Homo sapiens: one gene and its partners. The protein of the gene in region 1 purifies or fractionates together with the protein of each later gene. This does not show direct contact. Each region holds a gene or a part of one and is shown on either strand. Other genes may lie near its edges.

Evidence for each region.
Region 2: the proteins of CEBPZ (region 1) and PUM3 fractionate together in Homo sapiens (co-fractionation; one large-scale study listed by BioGRID). This does not show direct contact.
Region 3: the proteins of CEBPZ (region 1) and E2F3 purify together in Homo sapiens (pull-down; one large-scale study listed by IntAct). This does not show direct contact.

The regions. Positions count from the first base shown.
Region 1 is NC_000002.12:37,218,088-37,221,742, forward strand, and holds part of CEBPZ (CCAAT/enhancer-binding protein zeta), read right to left. Parts: intron 2,387-3,655; coding exon 2,298-2,386; intron 1-2,297. UniProt on the Homo sapiens protein: Stimulates transcription from the HSP70 promoter.
Region 2 is NC_000009.12:2,823,523-2,827,177, forward strand, and holds part of PUM3 (pumilio homolog 3), read right to left. Parts: intron 3,630-3,655; coding exon 3,551-3,629; intron 1,294-3,550; coding exon 1,195-1,293; intron 313-1,194; coding exon 259-312; intron 1-258. UniProt on the Homo sapiens protein: Inhibits the poly(ADP-ribosyl)ation activity of PARP1 and the degradation of PARP1 by CASP3 following genotoxic stress. Binds to double-stranded RNA or DNA without sequence specificity. Involved in development of the eye and of primordial germ cells.
Region 3 is NC_000006.12:20,481,854-20,485,508, reverse strand, and holds part of E2F3 (transcription factor E2F3), read right to left. Parts: intron 2,748-3,655; coding exon 2,589-2,747; coding exon of another isoform or gene 2,560-2,588; intron 1-2,559.

The DNA of each region.
Region 1 (3,655 bases):
AAACCCCGTCTCTACTAAAAATACAAAAAATTAGCCAGGCGTGGCGGTGTGCGCCTGTAGTCTCAGCTACTCGGGAGGCTGAGGCAGGAGGATGGTGTGAACCCGGGAGGCGGAGCTTGCAGTGAGCTGAGATCGCACCACCGCACTCCAGCCTGGGCGACAGAGCAAGACTCTGCCTCAAAAAAAAAAAGAAAAAAGAAAAAAAGAAAAATAATTATGCTTCAGGACGAAATATATAGCGAGTAGTATTACTTTACAGTTTTGCAAATCTCTTTAATGTCTGGCTTAACAGAAGAGAGTGGATTATTTCATCTGCTTCTGTATTCCACGTTGAAACATACAATCTGGCCTCATGTGTAGAAAATAGTCTTTCACATAGCTGTGAATTTTCTTCTTTAGTACTATACCAAAACCAAAGATTAGTTGTAATATGGAATCTGAAACCCATATTCAATTGGCTTTTGGTACTTGCTACTTAAAATTATTTGGTCTACTTTGAATCAATCATTTATTCACTCAAGAATTTGTAACATTCAGGTGGCACAGTGGCTCATGCCTGTAATCCCAGCACTTTGGGAGGCTGAGGTAGGTGGATCACCTGAAGTCAGGAGTTCGAGACCAGCCTGGACAACATGGCAAAACACTGTCTGTGCTAAAAATAAAAAAATTAGCTGGGCATGGTGGCATGCTCCTGTAATCCCAGCTACTCAGGAGGTAGAGGTTGCAGTGAGCCGAGATCGCGCCACTGCATTCCAGTATGGGTGACAGAACCTTCTCGTTTCAAAAAAAAGAATTTGTAACATTGTGCATTGGTCATTGGAAAAATACCATATGCAGTCCTTCCAAACACTGGCACATTTCGTTATACTTTACCACAACAATCACATTGTTAGAACCACTGATTTCATCAGAAAAGTTTTACAAATTGAGAAACTGTCAAGCTCAAGGTGGTGGTTACAAGATTTTTAAAACTTTAATCTTTGCTCGAAAGCTTTATTTTTGAATTTTATTGCTGACAACAAATACTGCCAGCTTTTTTGTTTCATTCATTTTCAAGAAAATATCTCCCAAATACCTAAGCCTGAATAACCAGTTTGTCAGTCTTTCATGAAAGAGCAGCTAGATGAGCTTGCAACAACTGGTAAGCACTTGTCCTTGAGACACGTGACAACCTTCATGCTTTAGGTAGGCAGCACAGGTATGTTACGCATACTTGCTATGTATGCACACGAAATACTAAAAAGACATGTTACTTTAAGGTCAAGACACTAAAATCAGTAATTCTCCCTGTGTCATCATTCTTAAGTCATACTGGCTTTTTTTTTTTTAACTGCACATATGTGGCAGTGATGAATATAATGGCTTCTGATGCAGCTTGGTGCTGTCTTTATTCAGGATAAGCTGCAGCAGTTTTACCTATCATTTCTTTTATAGTATCAGTGCCACCGTCAACACAGTGATGAAAACAAATAATGTACTGGTATTACTATGGAAAGAGCTGTGACCTGGCCGACTCACTAAAAAGGTATCAGGAACTCTTAGTGGTCTGGCCGCACTTTGAGAATAGCTGCATAAGATACTTACTGGCTTTACACAAAAAGTCACAGAAAGGTTATTAAAAATATGAATTCCTCTTACAAATTCAGAAAAGTAACTTTACTTGCAAAAAATTTTATCATAAAACTTTTCAGAGGTATCTAATAAATAAAGCAAAATTTATCCATTTTCTCAACTCTATATGCAATAATCTACCTACAAAAAGCAACAGTCATAACCCATGCATGACATCCTTATTTTACGTGCACACTTAAGATTTTCTACAAAATGAACACTTCACATAGTATCTTCCCCCAAATGTGGACTTTTAATGTTTATTAATGCTTATAATTATCATAAAAAAACAAAAACTTCAAGGCATTACATCCTCAAGGGCAAAAATATACAGCATAGGCCGGGCGCAGTGGCTCATGCCTGTAATCCCAGCACTTTGGGAGGCTGAGGCAGGCGGATCACAAGGTCAGGAGATCAAGACCATCCTGGCCAACATGGTGAAACCCCGTCTCTACTAAAAATACAAAAATTAGCTGGGCGTGGTGGTGGGCGCCTGTAATCCCAGCTACTTGGGAGGCTGAGCCAGGAGAATGGCTTGAACCCGGAAGGCGGACGTTACAGTGAGCCACAATCATGCCACTGCACTCCAGCCTGGTGACAGAGGAAGACTCTGTCTCAAAAAAAAAAAAAATATATATATATATATATAGCATAAATGAATAAAAGACAATTTGAAATTATTTTACCTTTTTGAGTTCCCAAAGACTTGTATTTTCAGCTCCACAGAACAGAGGGTTTCTACTGAATGGATCGTATTTATTTAACTGTTTCCCACCTAGGAATAACAAAAAAAATACGATTTCTCAAATGCTTTCTTCCTAGCCCAAGAGGTCATTAAAAGCACCACCATTAATATTCTCAACAGATATCTCCAACATTCTTACTTAGCCAAGCAACCTAGATTAAAAACTCTGAGCTCCCTCAAGAATTTGTCTTGGTACTTAAGCTAGCATCTGCTCTTGAATAAAGCAGAGAACATGTTTATCCCAAACACCAAAAGCTTTCTTCAAGGCCAGGTGCAGTGGCTCACACCTGTAATCACAGCACTTAGGGAGGCTGAGGCGAGTGGATCATTTGAGTTCAGGAGTTCGAGACCAGCCTGGGCAAAATGGTGAAACCCCATCTCTTACAAAAAATACAACAAAAAAACTAGCCAGGTGTGGTGGTGTGTGCCTGTAGTCCCAGCTATTCGGGAGACTGAGGTGGGAGGATCACTTGAGCCCAGGAGATGGGAGTTGCAGTGAACCAAGATCGTGCCATTGTGATCCAGCCTTCCTGACAGAGCAAGACCCTGACTCAAAAATAAGTAAGTAAAAGCTCCCTTCAAAACTTCTCCTTTGGCTGGGCACAATGGCTCATGCCTATAATCCCAGCACTTTGGGAGGCCAAGGTGGAAAGGCTGCTTGAGACCAAGAGCTCGAGACCAGCCGGTGCACAGAGTGGGATTTCGTCTCTACAAAAAACACAACTAGCCATACCTGGTGGCACGAGCCTGTAGTCCCGGCTACCTGGGAGGCTGAGGTGGGAGGATCGCTTGAGTTCAGGAGTTTGAGGCTGCAGTGAGCCATAATGGCCCACTGTACTCCAGCCTGGCCTGGGTGACATAGTGAGACCCTGTCTCAAAAAAAACAAAAACCAAACCAAAAAACCCCAAACTTCTCCCTTTCCTAAATGGCAACAAAAGGTGCCCATTTTGGGGCCAAAGAGGTGGAAACGTTAAGATGGAAATAATCTGAAGATGAACTAGGTCTAAAGTCTTTTGGAGCTTTAGAGTGCTTCAAATATTTGTCATGAAAGTATGCCCAGAAATAATTCTCACTTGGAACAGGTCTGACATTATCTTCATGTTTTTAGAAACTCAGGATTAAAAAAATTTAAAACAAAGATTTTTCAGAACAAACTAGGAACTGACTACCTTCCAACACACAAGCTCTTCATCCTTCTAAAGGATTATTCTCAGTTTAGTCTTCAGGGGAACTGATGGATTCTTCTCAAACTTTTCTGGCAGCTATCAGACTTCTCTTTTGTACTTCACAAACTGAAA
Region 2 (3,655 bases), on another chromosome or scaffold:
GTTTTCAAAGAATATCTAATAAAAGTAGAGAACTATCACAATACAATGTTAAATTAAAAAAGGAGAAAAGAATGCATGTGACATGATTTCCATTTTGTGTAGATAAAATATGAAAATACATGTAGATGCAAAGAAAAATATAATAAAACAATAATTTTCTGCTTGGTAATTTTCTGAATTTTTCCAAATTTTCTATAATAGACATGAATTCATCTTACTATCAAAAATAATTAGAATATGTAGTTTTATTATACTTACATTAGCCACCTTTTCAACATAAGTCTTCATTGTTTTCACAATCACTTTCCTGTCCTTAAAAAGGAAAGATTGTCTCACTGAATTTTCAGTTATGTATTAAGGGTATTTTGTAGTTAAACATTTTAATATAATATTTATTAAGTTTTCATTTGAGTGGCATATGTTTTCATTAGTAAAAATAATAGTTATACAGCCAGAACAAAAAAACTGTAATATACCAAAGAAGTTGGCTTAGAGCTATTACAAGCTTAGATGTGTATGTGATAGGGTTAGGGTTAGGGTTAGGGTTAGGGTTAGGGTTTGCAAGCCACCTTTCACAGTGAGACCAGACAGATCCTTCTTCCAAGGTCTAAACTGTCCTCAAATGCAGAGTCTAGCAAACAGTTAGTACTCATCTGCATTTGTTGAATAAAATTAAATTTGCATTAAAAAAAGTAGATATAGTACAACTATCTTTTAAAGGCAGAATTATGCTGACCAAGGAAATAATGATAATTTCTGTTAAACTTCTGTGATTAATAAGGATCTTTACCTTTTCCCTCAAGTACATAACACCTATGGGAGCAAATGTGTGTGGCCAGCTGTTTGTTATCTCTTCCCATTTTCCCCTGCCACAGTATGATCATTAAAAGAGGAGGTACCAAAACCTCTATAAACTAAAGCTTAAATACATATTATGTTTACTTGCTTGATAGATCTCTTCCCATCCTTTAATGAAACTTCAAGGTTTCTACTAAAGCAGAGGAAAGAAGAAACACTAGGCCTAAAGAAGATGGCTCATTCCCATCAGGCTCTAAGGCACAACTTTTGGAAGATAATGCACAACAGGGCAAAGACCAAAGGGGGTTAAAAGTCTAAGGACAGCTAAGTCAAGCCTGCAGATAAAGCATGGCCCTGACTTGTACAGTTTAAATGCCCAAGTGCTGTCACACTTACCTTGGGCGTGCCATGCCACAGGCAGTGCATGGCCACTCTGGCGCCATCGTGTGTGTGTGCCAGGTAGACCACCGCTTCGCGGATGGCTTCAATCATTTCCTAGGGAACAAATGCTGTCAGGAACAGGGCTCTGCTTTATTTTCTTCTTTCTACTGTTTTATCTGTCTGTCTACAGGGGGCAGTTATGCAGAGAGAAGGAAAGGAAGAGAGTGCCAGGTAGCAAACAATTTCATTTTGTAGACAATCAAACAGAAACACGAGCTCTTTCTAGAAATGTTCTTTTCCATCAAGAGCAGTAAATACTGCTGGCAGACAATATCTATTAAAAACAATACCTGACTTTTACCAATGTCTGTTAAAAAAAAGGTCAAGCTATATGTGTAATATAATATATTCTAAATAATTTTCCAAGAAAAAGAAGCCTAGGAGGTGGTGGTGATAAGAAGGGAGCTTTTAACAGAATAGCGAGACAAAGAAAATGCTCTTCCCCAAAAGAGACCTGTATGCAATAAACAGAATCAAAACACTCATTTTGACTGAAAAGCTTCCCTTTTCAGTTCATAACTGGATTATCTCCAAAAATCACATTCTTTACCATAAACACGCTTACATAACATTTCCTCATGAAAAATTTCTATACTAACATTTAGACTAAGACCTCACCTATAAAATGACCCTTTAGTAAAAAACATTTAATTTCTCACTAGGTAGCTTAGCTTAATTTAACCTTTAGCCTTCATTTTCCATGTATATAATTTCTTATTTACATTTTCTTTTTTTTTTGGAGACGGAGTCTTGCTCTGTCACCCAGGCTGGAGTGCAGTGGTGCCATCTTGGCTTACTGCAACCTCCACCTCCCAGGTTCAAGCAATTCTCCTGCCTCAGCCTCCCGAGTAGCTGGGGCTACAGGTGCCCGCCACCACCCCCGGCTAATTTTTGTATTTTAGTAGAGACTGGGTTTCACCATATTGGCCAGGCTGGTCTCGAACTACTGACCTTGTGATCTGCCCGCCTCGGGTTCCCAAAGTGCTGGGATTACAGGTGTGAGCCACCGTGCCTGGCCCTATATTTTCAAAGTCTAAGGCATGTAGGATGTAAATGAGTTCTGGCAACTAACAAGTGCAGAGCTCCATTTTAGTCTATTCCCAATTTAAAAATGTACATTAAATAAATACAAAGCCTCATGCCACGAAAGAGAGGGTAGGTGCCTAATTTCATCAATAAGGAACAAACAATTTCAGCCTCAAGTATCTAACAATCCCTTCCCAAGATGACTCTCAAGAGCAGTTTCAACTAACATATCTGAACTTAGGAATCTCTTCAGAGCTATCCAGATGGAAAGCCATGCATATATTCCAATTATGCTTCCATTTTCCCCGAAGGTTTTTTTTTTTTTAAGTCTCTTTTGAAAATGCCCCCAATACCAGAAAAGACAATTTGTCTCATTACTTTACACGCATGCTAAGTTCCAAATGATTTTTTGCTGTTACTGAAACATTCAACACTAAAAAGATACTTTCTACCACTGAATATATTCAAATAATCATTGTGTCATTTCTGAGCATATAGTCCTGCCTCAGAACCGTGGGATACTGTATTTTTCAGGAAGTAAGAAAAATCTCCAAAACAGAAGGTGCTGCTATGGTCATCAAACCATAAGCTTACGTGGGTGGCTACCATCAGGAAATTATTTTGCATGCCAATTTTAAGAGGGTCAAAACTCCAATGAATGTATAGTCTGGCGTTATTTGTTAAGTCAGTCTCATTATTTTCATTATCCCTTGTGATTGGAAAATGAGGACAAATGGACAATGAGCTCACTGTATGATGAGGCAAGCAAAGTTCAGGGAACTAAATGATGAATTCTCATTTGTATTCCCATGACTGACTTGAAGGGCAGTGCAATTTACCTTCACTCTGTTCTTCTATGATATAAAGTCCAGGTTTTCATCGTCCACTTAGTTTTACAAACATATCCTCCTCTAACCTTTTAATGCCAAGCTAATTTTTTTTTTGTATTAGCACAGTTGAATTTAAAACTATCCGAATGCTTGAATATTCCTCCACGAGTTAGTTAATTTTCAGATTAGGTTAGCCAGCGGATACTCTCTGGATTATAATTAAGATATAAAAATTTAATATGATTAGTAAAACTAGGGTCAATTCTATTGTTTACTGGAATAAAACCTAAATGGAATTAGCAAACGTGTTCAAAGGGAGTTGAGTAAATTATCTTCCCTAAATAAGGAAGCAACTCTAAAATTTCCACAAGACAACGTACATCAAAGCAGTTTTTCAAATTTCTACACCGCTCCTCCTCCATGTTTTAGTTTAAAAACAAAAACCAAGAACTTACTGATCTGAGTTTGGGGGGTGCATAGGTAAAAAAGTCCAAGAATACTTTATGCACCAATGAGTGCTTAATCACAGCTTCCCTGAAAACAGAAAAAAAAAGCAAAAA
Region 3 (3,655 bases), on another chromosome or scaffold:
CTCTGGGGTTAAATGATTCTCGTGCCTCAGCCTCCCAAACAGATGGGACTACAGGCGTGCACCACCACACCCGGCTAATTTTTTTTATTTTTAGTAGAGATGGGGTTTTACCCTGTTGCCCAGGCTGGTCTTGAACTCCTGGACTCAAGTGATCTGCCTGCCTCCGGCCTCCCAAAGTGCTGGGATTACAGGTGTGAGCCACGGCGCCCGGCCTTGGTCATTTTTTCTAAGCACTGAACCATTCTTTTAAATGTCCTGACAGCCAAGCCTAAAAGGCTATCATGAAAGAATATGGTACTTACGATATGACAAAAGTATTCAATTAATGTACAATGTCTTTAGCCCGTTATTATTTTTTATATGTACCCACAAAAAATTCCTAGGATAAAACAGCAAGTAACAAACCAATGAAGGCATTTCAGCAGGTAGTATAACGTATTTAATGGCTAATAGAGTCCGTGATCTAATATGTTTAATATAAAAAAAAGGGGGGGCTTAGAGACCCTAGAATAAATCATGTCCCTTACGATAGTAGCTTCTTTTTTTTTTTTTTTTTGAGACGGACTCCCACTCTGTCACTAAGGCTGGAGTGCAGTGGCACGATTTCAGCTCACTGCCACCTCTGTCTCCCAGGTTCAAGTGATTCTCCTGCCTCAGCCTCCCGAGTAGCTGGGATTACAGGCATGAGCCACCGTGCCTGGCTGTAGTAGCTTCTTATTAGAAACTGAATGCAGCTATGGAACTACTACTCCAGAAAGAAAGCACATTCACACGAAATCTGCATACACATGTAGGGGATCTATCACAGACTATCTCCTTCAAATCTTTACAGTTGAGATGATGGCTAATTCAGTGTTGAGCTTGTAGTGGCTGCTCTTGCAGGATTCTGGGTTTTAGGTCACTACATAACCCATCAAAGAAGTCAACGGATGCCTTTATAGAGGGCCAGGCAGTTCTGATTTTTTACTGAGAACACTGGAAAAAACTGACAACCAGGTACTTACACTACAGCTCACTGTCAAAAAGCTGTATGACAAGAACTTATTAAAATAAAAACTCATCACTTCTTGGCCTTTTGGCTAAGATCAAGTGTAAAAGAAAAACTCATCTACGATTACTCAACATGCTGCAGGAAGGAAAATTTCAACACATTTGTGAACAAGCTGTACCAATTTGGGAACTGAATGGTGAACTGAAATAAATTGTGCAAATGTATTTTCTAATCTTACAAACTTAAAAGTGCTTCCTTTGTGGCTCCCTCCTGAATTTACTCCTTGGGTTCGAAGTTCCCTGCAAGGAAGCTTTCATTTTCTGCAACAAAGGCCCCAGAGAGAGCTAATATAGGTGACAATGCCATAAGCCACATGTCCCGGAAGGCTGCCAATCACATGTAACCACCCATCTCTTCCACAATGGGGCTCCCAACCAAACAATGAATGAAACAGCCCAACTGTTGGTTTCTTCCCCTGTAAACCCACTCTGCCAACCACTGGGGGTCCAAATCACTACGCCTCTCTTCCATCTCACTAATTATCGGCTGACAAGGTTAATTCTTTGGTCAACAGGAAATGAACAATTGCAGGTTTGAAAAACTGCCAACATTGGAAGAAAATAAATATCTCCATATTCTCCAAGGGGGAGCCTGTTAAAGATGAGACACTAGAAGAATCTGGGCAGAACACTTTTTAGTTTTTGTCAAATAATGGTAAATGTGCAATCATCAGAAGTTTGGAACTAAAACTAGAGATGGGATAACTTACAGTACTGTTTTTTGTCTTCTAATAACTGAGAATATTGGCAAGTCTTGTTTGACATAATGAGGCAATCTCTCTCTTACTTTGTCTGTAGTGAGATGATGAAGAGCAAGTTTTCCTGAGATCGTCAATAGATTGTCAGGAAGTTGAGAACAAGAACTGACCTTTTGTATTTTTATTTGCGAGGACTAATGTTTGTAGTGGAACAGAGGAATTGAGAGGGGTTTCTCAGGTCTTGGGGTGCTTTTGAAATCAGTTTTTTCATTGGGAATCAGCAGAATGCACTTTAAGAGTTATAGTATGATTTTTCTCTACTCTTTCAAACCCTTCAACTATAGCCCAATCAGATAGATTCAACCAATTTCAATTGCTACGATATCTGGTGAGAAGAAAATAGAATGTGAGAACCCCAACAGTGACAGCTAACACCCACCAAAAATCTGGGAAGCCAAAGACGAATCTGCTTAGTGTTGTCATTAATATTAATACCGACACCTTATGTATCTTTTAATAGTGTGGCCTTACGCTACGAGTATACCCATGTCTCAACCACACATGAAAAAATGCTTTAAAAAACAGTTCCCACCTGGTATCAAAATAGATAATAATAGGATCGAGTTGGTGACTATCTTACCATAAATACTGACTTTTTAGGCAAAGCTAACTGGGTTTACACACACACGTGCACACACACACACATACACACACAGGCACACAGGTACTCATTTGCATGACATCAGAATAATAATCTACCTTGTGCATAAGTCAGATTGTCAACTCTGGAAATAGTCTAGGAAGCACTAACCCCCAGAGAACTGGCGGCACAAAGGATATCTTTGATTCTCTGAATCCTCGGTTAACAGTTTGAGGTCCAGGGTGCAGCTTTGGATCAGTTCATCTAATTTCTTCTCTTCCTGACTGAGCTCGGTCACTTCTTTTGACAGGCCTTGACACTGGGCCAGCATGCCCCCATCCTCAGACAGACTGCAGCCCCTAGAAACCCAAACACAGACTCTTCATGGCTACTCATGGGAGGGAGGGGAAGGAGAAATGATCCTTTGGGTAAATGTCTCCTCTTGACATAGGAGGTCACATTGCTTGTTAGCCAAGTGTTAAAATTAGAACATTTACACATATATATATATATATATATATTTTTTTTTTCATAAATACAGTTCTGCACTTTTCACAGCATAGAAATTTAGTGAAAGCGCACTGCTATTTTCAGGATTCTTTCCTCCAGGGGAGGTCTACTTCTTCAGAAGGTTCAAATTCAGAGGGCAAAAGAAGGCAACCACCTTCCTCCCTTGCCTCATGGCTCCCAGGTGGTGGGGGAAGAAAGGCGAAAAAGGATAAAAAGATAGAGAAAGACAGAGAAGATGGAATGGTTCAAAATTAAAAAAAAAAAAAAACAAAAAAACAACCCATCCAAAAAAGCATCAAAAACTCAGGTAATTACTGAGGGTCTTATATCAACAACTAAAAAGAAAAGAAAGTAAAGGAAACAGATGTATGTGATGTATGCAAGAACTGAGACTAGTGCACAATATGTTTCTCTAAACCAGAGGCCAAAACGGGTTACCAAACTGTCAACAAAATTCCAAAATGTGCAAAAAAAGGTATGTATTCATCTTCCATCTGAATTAGTATCTTTTCAAAGCCCTCCTGTAACAGAATTATTCCTTCCAAAATGCTTTAATAATTCAATACTGTGCTTATAGTGGCTATTTAGATGCTCTAAAATTCACAAAATATATTACATATGTAATCATACGTGTGGCTGTATAAGTATCATGCTACCATCCCTGCTCTACAGACGAAATGGAGGCATTTAAGTCTTGCCTTAATTTACCCAGAAAGTGAGTTAATCTGCTATTAGAACCATGGATAAAGATATTCTG